Linked DNA regions of Homo sapiens. The protein of the gene in region 2 purifies or fractionates together with the protein of the main gene of each other region. This does not show direct contact. Each region holds a gene or a part of one and is shown on either strand. Other genes may lie near its edges.

Region 1 (3,654 bases), about 38 Mb from region 2:
GCTAAAAACTCTCAATAAACTAGGTATTGATGGGAGGCATCTCAAAATAATGAGTTATTTATGACAAACCCACAGCCAATATCGTACTGAATGGGCAAAAACTGGAAGCATTCCCTTTGGAAACTGGCACAAGACAGGGATGCCCTCTCTCACCACTCCTATTCAACATAGTGTTGGAAGTTCTGGCCAGGGCAATAAGGCAGGAGAAAGAAATAAAGGGTATTCAATTAGGAAACGAGGAAGTCAAATTGTCCCTGTTTGCAAATGACATGATTGTATATTTAGAAAACCCCATCGTCTCAGCCCAAAATGTTCTTAAGCTGATAAGCAACTTCAGCAAAGTCTCAGGATACAAAATCACTGTGCAAAAATCACAAGCATTCCTACACACCAATAACAAACAAACAGAGAGCCAAATCATGAGTGAACTCCCATTCACAATTGCTTCAAAGAGAATGAAATACCCAGGAATCCAACTTACAATGGATGTGAAGGACTTCTTCAAGGAGAACTACAAACCACTGCTCAGTGAAATAAAACAGGACACAAACAAATGGAAGAACATTCCATGCTCATGGATAGGAAGAATCAATATTGTGAAAATGGCCATATTGCCCAAGGTAATTTATAGATTCAATGCCATCCCCAACAAGCTACCAATGACTTTCTTCACAGAATTGGAAAAAACTACTTTAAAGTTCATATGAAACCAAAAAAGAGCCTGCATTGCCAAGACAATCCTAAGCCAAAAGAACAAAGCTGGAGGCATCACGCTACCTGACTTCAAACTATACTACAGTAACCAAAACAGCATGGTACTGTACCAAAACAGAGATATAGACCAATGGAATAGAACAGAGCCCTCAGAAATAACACCACATGTCTACAACCATCTGATCTTTGACAAACCTGACAAAAACAAGAAATGGGGCCAGGCGCAGTGGCTCACGCCTGTAATCCCAGCACTTTGGGAGGCCGAGGTGGGTGGATCACGAGGTCGGGAGATCAAGACCATCCTGGCTAACATGGTGAAACCCTGTCTGTCTCTACTAAAAAATACAAAAAAATTAGCCAGATGTGGTGGCGGGCACCTGTAGTCCCAGCTACTAGGGAAGCTGAGGCAGGAGAATGGTGTGAACCTGGGAGGTGGAGCTTGCAGTGAGCCGAGATCGCGTCACTGCACTCCAGCCTAGGCAACAGAGCGAGACTCCATCTCAAACAACAACAACAACAACAACAACAAACAAACAAACAGACAAACAAGAAATGGGGAAAGGATTCCCTATTTAATAAATAGTGCTGGGAAAACTGGCTAGCCATATCTAGAAAGCTGAAACTGTATCCTTTCCTTACACCTTATACAAAATTAATTCAAGATGGATTAAAGACTTACATCTTAGACCTAAAACCATAAAAACCCTAGAAGAAAACCTAGGCAATACCATTCAGGACATAGGCATGGGCAAGGACTTCATGACTAAAACACCAAAAGCAATGGCAACAGAAGCCAAAACTGACAAATGGGATCTAATTAAACTAAAGAGTTTCTGCACAGCAAAAGAAACTACCATCAGAGTGAACAAGCAACCTACAGAATGGGAGAAAATTTTTACAATCTACTCATCTGACAAAGGGCTAATATCCAGAATCTACAAAGAACTTAAACAAATTTATAAGAAAAAAATCAAACAACCCCATCAAAAAGTGGGTAAAGGATATGAACAGACACTTCTCAAAAGAAGACATTTATGCAGCCAACAGACACATGAAAAAATGCTCATCATCACTGGCCATCAGAGAAATGCAAATCAAAACCACAATGAGATACCATCTCACACCAGTTAGAATGGCGATCATTAAAAAGTCAGGAAACAACAGGTGCTGGAGAGGATGTGGAGAAATAGGAACACTTTTACACTGTTGGTGGGACTGTAAACTAGTTCAGCCATTGTGGAAGACAGTGTGGTGATTCCTCAAGGATCTAGAACTAGAAATACCATTTGACCCAGCCATCCCATTACCGGGTATATACCCAAAGGATTATAAATCATGCTGCTAGAAAGACACATGCACACATATGTTTATTGTGGCACTATTCACAAGAGCAAAGACTTGGAACCAACCCAAATGTCCATCAATGACAGACTGGATTAAGAAAATGTGGCACATATACACTATGGAATACTATGCAGCCATAAAAAAGGATGAGTTCATGTCCTTTGTAGGGACATGGATGAAGTTGGAAACCATCATTCTGAGCAAACGAACACAGGAGCAGAAAACCAAACACCACATGTTCTCACTCATAGGTGGGAACTGAACAATGAGAACACTTGGACACGGGGTGGGGAACATCACACACCAGGGCCTGTCGTGGGGTGGGGGGAGTGGGGAGGGATAGCATTAGAAGATATACCTAATGTAAATGACGAGTTAATGGGTGCAGCACACCAACATGGCACATGTATACATATGTAACAAACCTGCATGTTGTGCACATGTACCCTAGAACTTAAAGTATAATAAAAAAATCATAGAAAAAAAGAATTCTATACACAGATACATCAAAGAGAAACTGAAGGATACTATGAACCAAGAGAAAGTCTTAAAAGCCACTGAAAGGGAAATCAAAAGAAAATGAACAAACAAAATTCATGCATGCAAACAGAAAACAGATCATTAACAACAAAAAATCAATAACTGACAGAGACTTCTCATCAGCAACAACAGGTAAGAAGACAGCAGAACTAAGGAAAACAAGTGTCAAGCATCCCATTCAAGCATGGAGGTGAAACAGAAATGGTTTTAGACAAAGTCTGAGAAAAATTTGTCACTCATAAACCCTTTCTGAAAAAGTACTAAAAGATGTATTTCTGTAAGAAGGAAAATGAATCCAGAAGGAAGAACAGGAAATCAAGTAGCAATGGTGAAAAAATTTGTTAATTATATTAATAGGGTTTAATTTGCATAGATTGTAAAAACAAAAACAAAAGAAATAATCTCCCCTATTATTAGTGTCTGGAAGTTTAGTTCCAAGATATTATCAAACCCTTGAAGATCATTATATCATTGTTGCTTCTTTCATTTTTGTCTTTTAGCTTTGTGCTGCCTGTAATGGGTACAATTTAATAACACATGCTAGTAAATAAAGAGTAGAGAGGGTACGTCAGGAAAATGCTGACAAAGGAGGACTAAAGCCCTATTAATGTCAGACAAAAGGCTTTAAGACAAAGATAACTTTCAGAAATGAAGATTATTACTTAATAATAAAAGAACAATCCAATAAAATATAATATTATGCACTTATATGTTCCCAATAACATAGCCTCAAAATATTAAAAACAAAATTTACAGAATTGCAAGGAACAAGGGATAAATATCCATTCAGAGCAGGAGATTTTAAGATATTTTACTCAGAAATTGAGAGACCAAACAAAAAATTATCCGAGCAAGAAGTCATAAGCTAGATCTAAAGGACCTATATAGAAGTCTGCATTCAGCAATGGAAAGCATGAGATAGAGTCTCACTCTGTCTCTCAGGCTGGAGTGCAGTGGTGCAATCTCAGCTCACTGCAACCTCTGCCTCCCAGGTTCAAGAGATTTTCCTGCCTCAGTCTCCCGAGTAGCTGGGATTACAGGTGCGTGCCACCATGC
Region 2 (2,916 bases):
GTTTTTGTTTGTATTTGTTTTCCCATTTTTGAAAACATTTTCAATCATATTTCTTGAGACTCATTGGAAATATGTGAGCTAAAAAGGAAATACTAAATTGATTTTAGAGATGAAAAAAAAATCTTCAGCAGCAGTGACTTGCCCATAGTTCAAAAAGCAAAAATTTACAAGTGGTGGAAGCAAAAGTAGAATGCTGCTGTTGTGACTCCTAGGTCAGCGGTCTTTGTTGAAGCAATGGAGTAATAAATCAAACGACTAATTAAAAACAAAACAATGAAAAATCCATGATGCTTATGAACAACGTTAGGGCAATGAATTTGAAAACAAAAAAAGGGAAGTCTATTTTAAAATAGAACTCAAAAGTAACTCAAGGAATTGTTAATTTTTTAAGTAAATGAATACATCTATAACTTTTAAAACACCACACAATTAGAATTTTATAGAGAATACAGTAAATGAAACAACAACAACAAAAACAGGCAAAATAATACCAAAATAGATTTTTTTTTTAAATGAAGATGTTAGCAAACCAACTCCTTTAAAATAACAAAAGTAAACATCAACAAGTCAGTTTAATCACAGGATGGCAAGATTTCATCTCAAAATCATCACATTACCATTAGAGAAAATCCATGTGAAAATTTGAACTGATACTGAAAAATAGTTTGAAAAAATTCAATACGAATTATTGCCTAAAAAACAAAGACATTAACAATATAGAAACCAAAGCTCAAGAACTTGTACACACTGCAAAAGGGTATGTACCAAAAATCTACACCAGTTACTATACTTATTAATGAATACTTGGAAGCACTCCCTTTAAAAGCAGGAATGGAAGAAACAAAATTTTTACTGTTCTAAGATGATATTTACATGAACAATTTTATAGAATCTAGAAACAGTTGTTCTCAGATGACATCTACATCTACATGGATAATTTTATAGAATCTACAAACATACCATTGAAAGTAGTGAGAAAATTTAGCACAGTTACTGGATATAAGATCAATATCTAAAATCAGAATACCAACATTTAAAAAGTGTTATTAAATTTAGAATGTAATTCAACAAGTTATAACAGTCCTATGAAATAATATCACAAGAACTGTGTAAGATTTTATAAAGAAAATAATATTTTCTAATATGTTGGGAAAATCCCAAGTAAATGGAGAGAAGATGTTCACGCACAGAAAATGCAATCAATATCATTGCTCCAAATTATGTGAATCGGAAGCAATCTGTATTACAATCCAAATAGATGTGCTCATGGAACTTGACAAATTAATTTTAAGATTTATATGAACACCAGATGCTAGAATAGACAAGATCTTTTTGACAGATGTATATTTTAGTTTTGGTGCAGAAACAATGGAATAGAATAGAGTTTAGAATTAGATCGAAACACACAGATTACACGTTTATGTCTTGATGTGTGGTTAAATTTGTATTATAATCAGTGGAATATAAACCAGTATTGTGGAACAGATTATCCATAAATAATAAAACTGTGCTCAGACACAAAATTAATTCCTATATGGATTAAAGATTTAATGTGTAAAAGTAAAAAATGTCAAATCTTTCTAGAAAAATATAGGAGGATGTGTTCATAATTGTGTATAAGGGGAAAATTTCTTAAAAGTACAAAACATAGAGAAAAGATTGATGTGTTCGACCATAATAAAAATAGAACTTTCTGTTCATTAAATCATACTAGAAACAAACAAACCAATAACCTGATGTGCTAGTTGTTTAGTTCTTATAACTGATTAAAGATTACTAACAAAATAGTTGTACAATTGCCAAATGTATAAAGTAAAAGAACAGCTCATTCTTACAAAAAGAAATATGAATGGCCAAAAAGTTGTAAAAGTTCCCTTAGGTTCAAAGAAATGCAAACTAAAAACAAAATACCAATTTACCCTACTCAGTATGATTAAATTTTTTTAAATGGTGATGACATCAACTCTGAAAGGCATATGGAGCAATTAAAACACTTAAACTGCTAGTAGGCTGTAAATTGGTAAAAAATGTTTTTAAAAGCAATTTAGAAATACCTGTTGTGGTTGAAGACAAAAGTAACCAATATCCCAATATTTCCACCTGTTGCAGCATTATATGTAATAGGGAAAAATTGAAAGTAATATACCCATTTGGAATACATATAGTCACTATACTGAAGTGAGAATAAATTAACCAGAGCTGTACAAATAAAATAGTAAACCTATGTTCTTATACTTTGTTGCCTTTCTTTTGATGTTTAACAATAGGCAAATCAATGCTGTATGTTGTTTAAATAATTGTGAATATGAAATAAAAACTATACCAAAAATATTGGATGAGACTTCCACTTTCATGGTTATGTTCCTGTAGATAGCAGACTAATTGATATAGGACATCAGTATGCTAAGTAAATTGAGGTAAAGATACTCTTAAATGCATTACTGTGTTCCCAAGGAAGTGAAGGAAATACCCAGAATACCCAGGTCTTTCTTCTAACGCACACACACCCCAAAGATACAAATGAAAACAGAAAAGGAGAGTGCACTGAGGAAAATATAGATACCATATGATACTGGGAGATTAGACCCTGATCATCACAAATTGAAACTGTAAATGCAAGATGCCTGAAATAAAGTTTATATCCTTGGTGAAAGGATGGGCAGAGTAAAACTAGATAGATTGATAAATGATTGATTAATGGGTGGACAGATAAGAGAAACCTTCATTACTTTAGAGAGAACAGATGAAAAAGAAAGACTCTGCTATTGCCTGAGGTGAAATGAATTGACTAAAATAATAACAGTCATGCCATTATCATCAACATTTACTTTGGGAATGTGTACCCATACACTTGGTTTCACATAGCTACCCTACCCTGCCAGTCAGAGAAACTTTGACCTGAGAATTTCATAATGT
Region 3 (4,142 bases), on a different chromosome or scaffold from region 2:
ACAGAGGGAGACTGTCTCAAAAAAAAAAAAAAAAAAGAAATGACAAAGAGGATTCCCCCGTGGTCTCTTAGAGAAGGTCACAGTGGGGAGGAGCAATAGGCATTTGTCATCCCTGAGAACAGGTGACAGGCAGTGAGGGAAACCTTACTGCTGGGCTCTTTGAGTAGATGGAGGATAACAGCTACCATTGTCTTGACTTCCCAGACCCCAAAGTCATCCTCTGTGGCATCTGTCTCCAGTCCTAAACCTATGGGCAGAGAAGTGACAGTGAAGACATCTTAGCATAAGCACTAATCCTGTTTACTCCTGGGCCCAACTCCCCTCCATAGACACATGCTGGAGACCAGCATACACATTTGTTTTGGCCCAGTTCATGTGTGCACATACAGATTCCCAGTCCAGACATAGACAGACACATACCCACATTCCAAACTCATCCTAGCACAGACACGAAGACACAGTACACTCAGGGACTTAGCAGATAACGCAGTCTTGTATGTGTCCATATTACCCACCCACAGCATGCACATACTCAGACACATGTACCCACAGTGGCTTCTCCACCCTAACCCTGCTGGGTCACAGATACCCTGTGCCATGGTGGCCACAGTGAGGTCCCTGGCAGGGCAGGTGCTTGGATGCTGCATATGGAATTCTCTTCGGAGGTCATAGAAGGAGAAGAACATGTCGGGGAGCACCAGGTTCTGGGGGCACATAGGATTGAGGATGAGCGCCCTGCCCACCCTCAGGACAAGAGGGGTTCTGGGAACCTTACTGACCACCCCACCCCACCCGGTTTTCCTTCAGGAGCATACCTTCCTGGAGGCCTCGGGGTGCAGGACCTGTCGCAATAGCTGCTGCCCATCAGTGCAGAGCATGTAGGGGCCCCCGCCCAGCAAAGCCACATCCCCGTTCACCAGCTGTGAGAACTGGGGATAGGGAATGGGGAGAGAGAAACACACAGATTCACAGCTGGGCAGGCAGGAAGTGAGGGTAGGAGGAAGGAGGCAGGCTGCAAAGCTGGTTCAGCCAGATGTTCAGCCCTATCCTGCCTGGGAATAAGAGGCCACGCCTGTTGAGCCTAGCCCTATGTCCCTTCCCCTCACCCCCCAACCCTGTTCCAGTCCACTGTCACCTCCTCCAGGCCAAATGAGGGCAATCACATATAACCGAAGCCCTCAACACACACACTCCAGGAGTTTGGAGTGGGGCCAGAGCAAACACCTGGAGTGGGACAAGCAGGTGGGAAGGGGCGGGGCAAAGCAGGTTAAACCTGTCTTTGACCGGGTACCACCCTCAGACAGGTGGGGGAGGCCCAGGCCTGCCTGAGGCCCAGAAGGCTCATGGTCAATGGCAGCCCCGCCTCCAGGTCTGACCAACCGAGGGGCAGAGAAACTCCAAGGACAGAGCTCCACACTTGGACATCAGGGGCAGCATGAGCTTTGACCCACATCCTATTGACCGGCTGGCACTGAGCTGTTTGCTCATAGAGGGGGTGGCACTCCTGAGGCTGCCCAGCCCTCCCCCAGCCTCCATCCTTGCTGGAGAAGTATAAACACTAATCAGTGACCCACGAACCCTCCCTGCCAATTCTGTGACACTTTACAACTTGGGGCTGACAGAGCAAGGCAACCCAGCTCTCCTCCAGCAAACTCCCCAAGTGAAGGGCCGGGAGCCCTTCTGGAACAGACAAGGAATCATCATCGTGGTGCCTCCTCATCAGGAACCACAAGAGTTGTTGGAAGATGAAAGAACGTGAGTGTATAAAAAGGACTTACACTAATTACACTCAAGAGTCAGACATAGAATGAGCGCCGTAGTGAAGATAAGGAAAAGAAAACAGCAATGGAAACCACCTCCCACTTCAGCTAGGGCAGGAGGCACCCCAGGCCTTTGCACTCAGCAGGCAGATAGTCCCCCAGGCCAGGCCGGGACAGCGCCCACGCCTGGCCAGCCGGCCGGGACAGGCCTAGACGAGCAGTTTACACCTGGCGGCGTCTACCTCTAGGGCCGACACCGCCCTACGCCTCCGCTCCAGCAGCTCCCAAGCAGGCCGAAGACGCGGGCCGCAAGGACAGGTGACCTATATGGGCCCCTCGACCCCTTTCGCTTCCGGCTGCGGCTCAGGGAGACCTGACCCAGCAGGTCTCCCAAAGGCGTCTCGGCCTCGCTCCCCGGGCGGGAACTGGGGATGGATCCCAAAGCCTGCGTCCCGATCCCTTCGGTAGGAGTAGGTTCCTGCAATGGTTGAAAAGTAAGGAGCCCAGGGGAATGGCTGGCACGCGCGGATGAAAGGGGCACGCACACGCGAGAGTCGCTCAAAGTTTCAAACAAGAGCCCAGTCCTGCCGCCTGGACCGGTTGGTTGCGGCACGCCAGGCCTAGCCTCCGGCCGCCAATCCCGCCCAGAAATGTCCTCACGTCCAGGCCATGCCGCCACCCACCCCGGCGCTCACCTGCTGCAGCACCTTGTCCAGCGGCTCTGCCCGCGCCAGGCTGTCGGCGCTCAGGCCGCTCGCCTCGCGGCACTGCGTACTCAGTGCGGCCGCCTCGGCACGAACCAGCGATTTGTGCAGCGTCCCCACCTGTGAGCGGCGGGGGAAACCGATCAGCCGCGCCCCTCGACCCCGGAAGCTCCCTGGGGACCTCACCGCCTCTTTTCCACCCTACCTGGCGGCTCCGCGGCTCAACCACTTGCCAAACTAGGAGGATTAAGTCGGTCTCGTCCGAGCCCAGGTCCCGTCCCAGCGCACCCGCCGTAGCCCCGAAGAGGACGACCAGTGATCCGGGCCAGGGGCAGGGGTCCGCGGCGGGGTCGGCCGCGGGGTCAGGGCCCGGGGGAGGGGGCGGCGGCGGCGGCGGAGTCATGGCCGCAGAGGAAGGGGGCTCTCGGCCAGACACGCGGACCGACGAGGCGCACGCACGCACCGACCGACCGCAGACGCGGATCAGCTTGGGCGGGACACCGTGTATCGGGGGCGGCACCTGCGGCCCGGCTGGCTCAGTGGGCGCTGCCAAGACCCGCCCGTGGCGCCCCGCGGGGCGGGGCGGCTACCGGCCCACGCCCTCTCCAGGCGAGTTACCTGCCGGCCCCGCCGGCCACGTGACCGGGGCGGCTCCGGGAACCTTGGGGGAGGGCCGCCAGAACTCAACCCAGGACGCAAGAGCTCACGCTCCCGGCCTGGGCGCACGCTTAGGATCCGGATTCCTACTTCCAGGGCTGGTCCTGCCTGATTTTGGGGGCTAACCCATTCTTCCGCTCTCCCCCCACTCTTCCCCAGGGGTCGTCAGGCCTCTGCAAAGGAGCGTGCAAGACAGAGGCCTTCTCCAGTATGGAAGTCACCAGGAGGCAGTCTAGGGGCTGTGGGGGTCAACACGGCAGGTCTGGGGTTGATGGAAGTCAAAGGGTCAAGGGGGCGGTGAGAGTTGCCGGGTATCACCCTGTAGGGGGATCACCAGAAGTCACCTGGGAAAGGGGAGGGCGGCGGGAACATCAGCGTTGTTAGAGCTGTGGGGTGGTCACCAGGGATCACAGGGAAGGGCTTGTCCACGCAGATGCTAGGGCCGAGCGCTAGCCTGGCACTGAGAAGTGCCAGAGCGCGGTCGTTGTGGGTTGGGAGTGGGCAGGCCTCAATGCTGGGGAAAGGAACCCCCCAAATCGCAGAGAGCTGCACCCTAGACGAGGCTGAGAGGGGTAGAACGGGCCTGGAGCCTCACTCCTACCCCACGTGTGGGGGCCTGCCTGCTTTCGTCCCTTTCTGGACGGTGGAGAAGCTGCCTGGAGATTGCGAGCGCTCTGGCCGATGGGGGGCTAGCGTTGAGCGTGTGTGCGCGCATGCGGGCTGCAGATCCTCCCTTTTCCATCCCGCACCTACAACCCAATTGACAGCCCCGCATTTGGGGCTCCCATTCCTCCCTTTGCCCAGTGGAGCTTGGTGAGGCTCCTTTATGGCGCGTTTCCCGGCCGTTCCTTACTTTCCCAAACTCTCCCAGGGAGGTGACTGAGAAACTGAATAAGTGACTGAGAAACTGAATAATCCAGCAGGAAGGAGGGGGCTCCAGCGTGGCGGGAACTGAGTCACGCGGTTGCCTAGCCCGACTCGAGACTGAGACGGGAGCCGCACCACGCGCTTTCGGACAAGG

The links.
Region 1: the proteins of ATXN7L3B (region 2) and OAS3 fractionate together in Homo sapiens (co-fractionation; one large-scale study listed by BioGRID). This does not show direct contact.
Region 3: the proteins of ATXN7L3B (region 2) and ESRP2 fractionate together in Homo sapiens (co-fractionation; one large-scale study listed by BioGRID). This does not show direct contact.

What each region holds. Positions count from the first base shown.
Region 1 is NC_000012.12:112,951,871-112,955,524, reverse strand, and holds part of OAS3 (2'-5'-oligoadenylate synthase 3), read right to left. Parts: intron 1-3,654.
Region 2 is NC_000012.12:74,543,100-74,546,015, forward strand, and holds the end of ATXN7L3B (ataxin-7-like protein 3B), read left to right. Parts: 3' UTR 1-2,331; downstream 2,332-2,916.
Region 3 is NC_000016.10:68,233,179-68,237,320, forward strand, and holds the start of ESRP2 (epithelial splicing regulatory protein 2), read right to left. Parts: upstream 2,950-4,142; 5' UTR 2,868-2,949; coding exon 2,670-2,867; intron 2,585-2,669; coding exon 2,456-2,584; intron 2,445-2,455; exon of another isoform or gene 2,003-2,444; intron 930-2,002; coding exon 816-929; intron 705-815; coding exon 590-704; intron 322-589; exon of another isoform or gene 248-321; coding exon 149-247; intron 1-148. UniProt on the Homo sapiens protein: mRNA splicing factor that regulates the formation of epithelial cell-specific isoforms. Specifically regulates the expression of FGFR2-IIIb, an epithelial cell-specific isoform of FGFR2.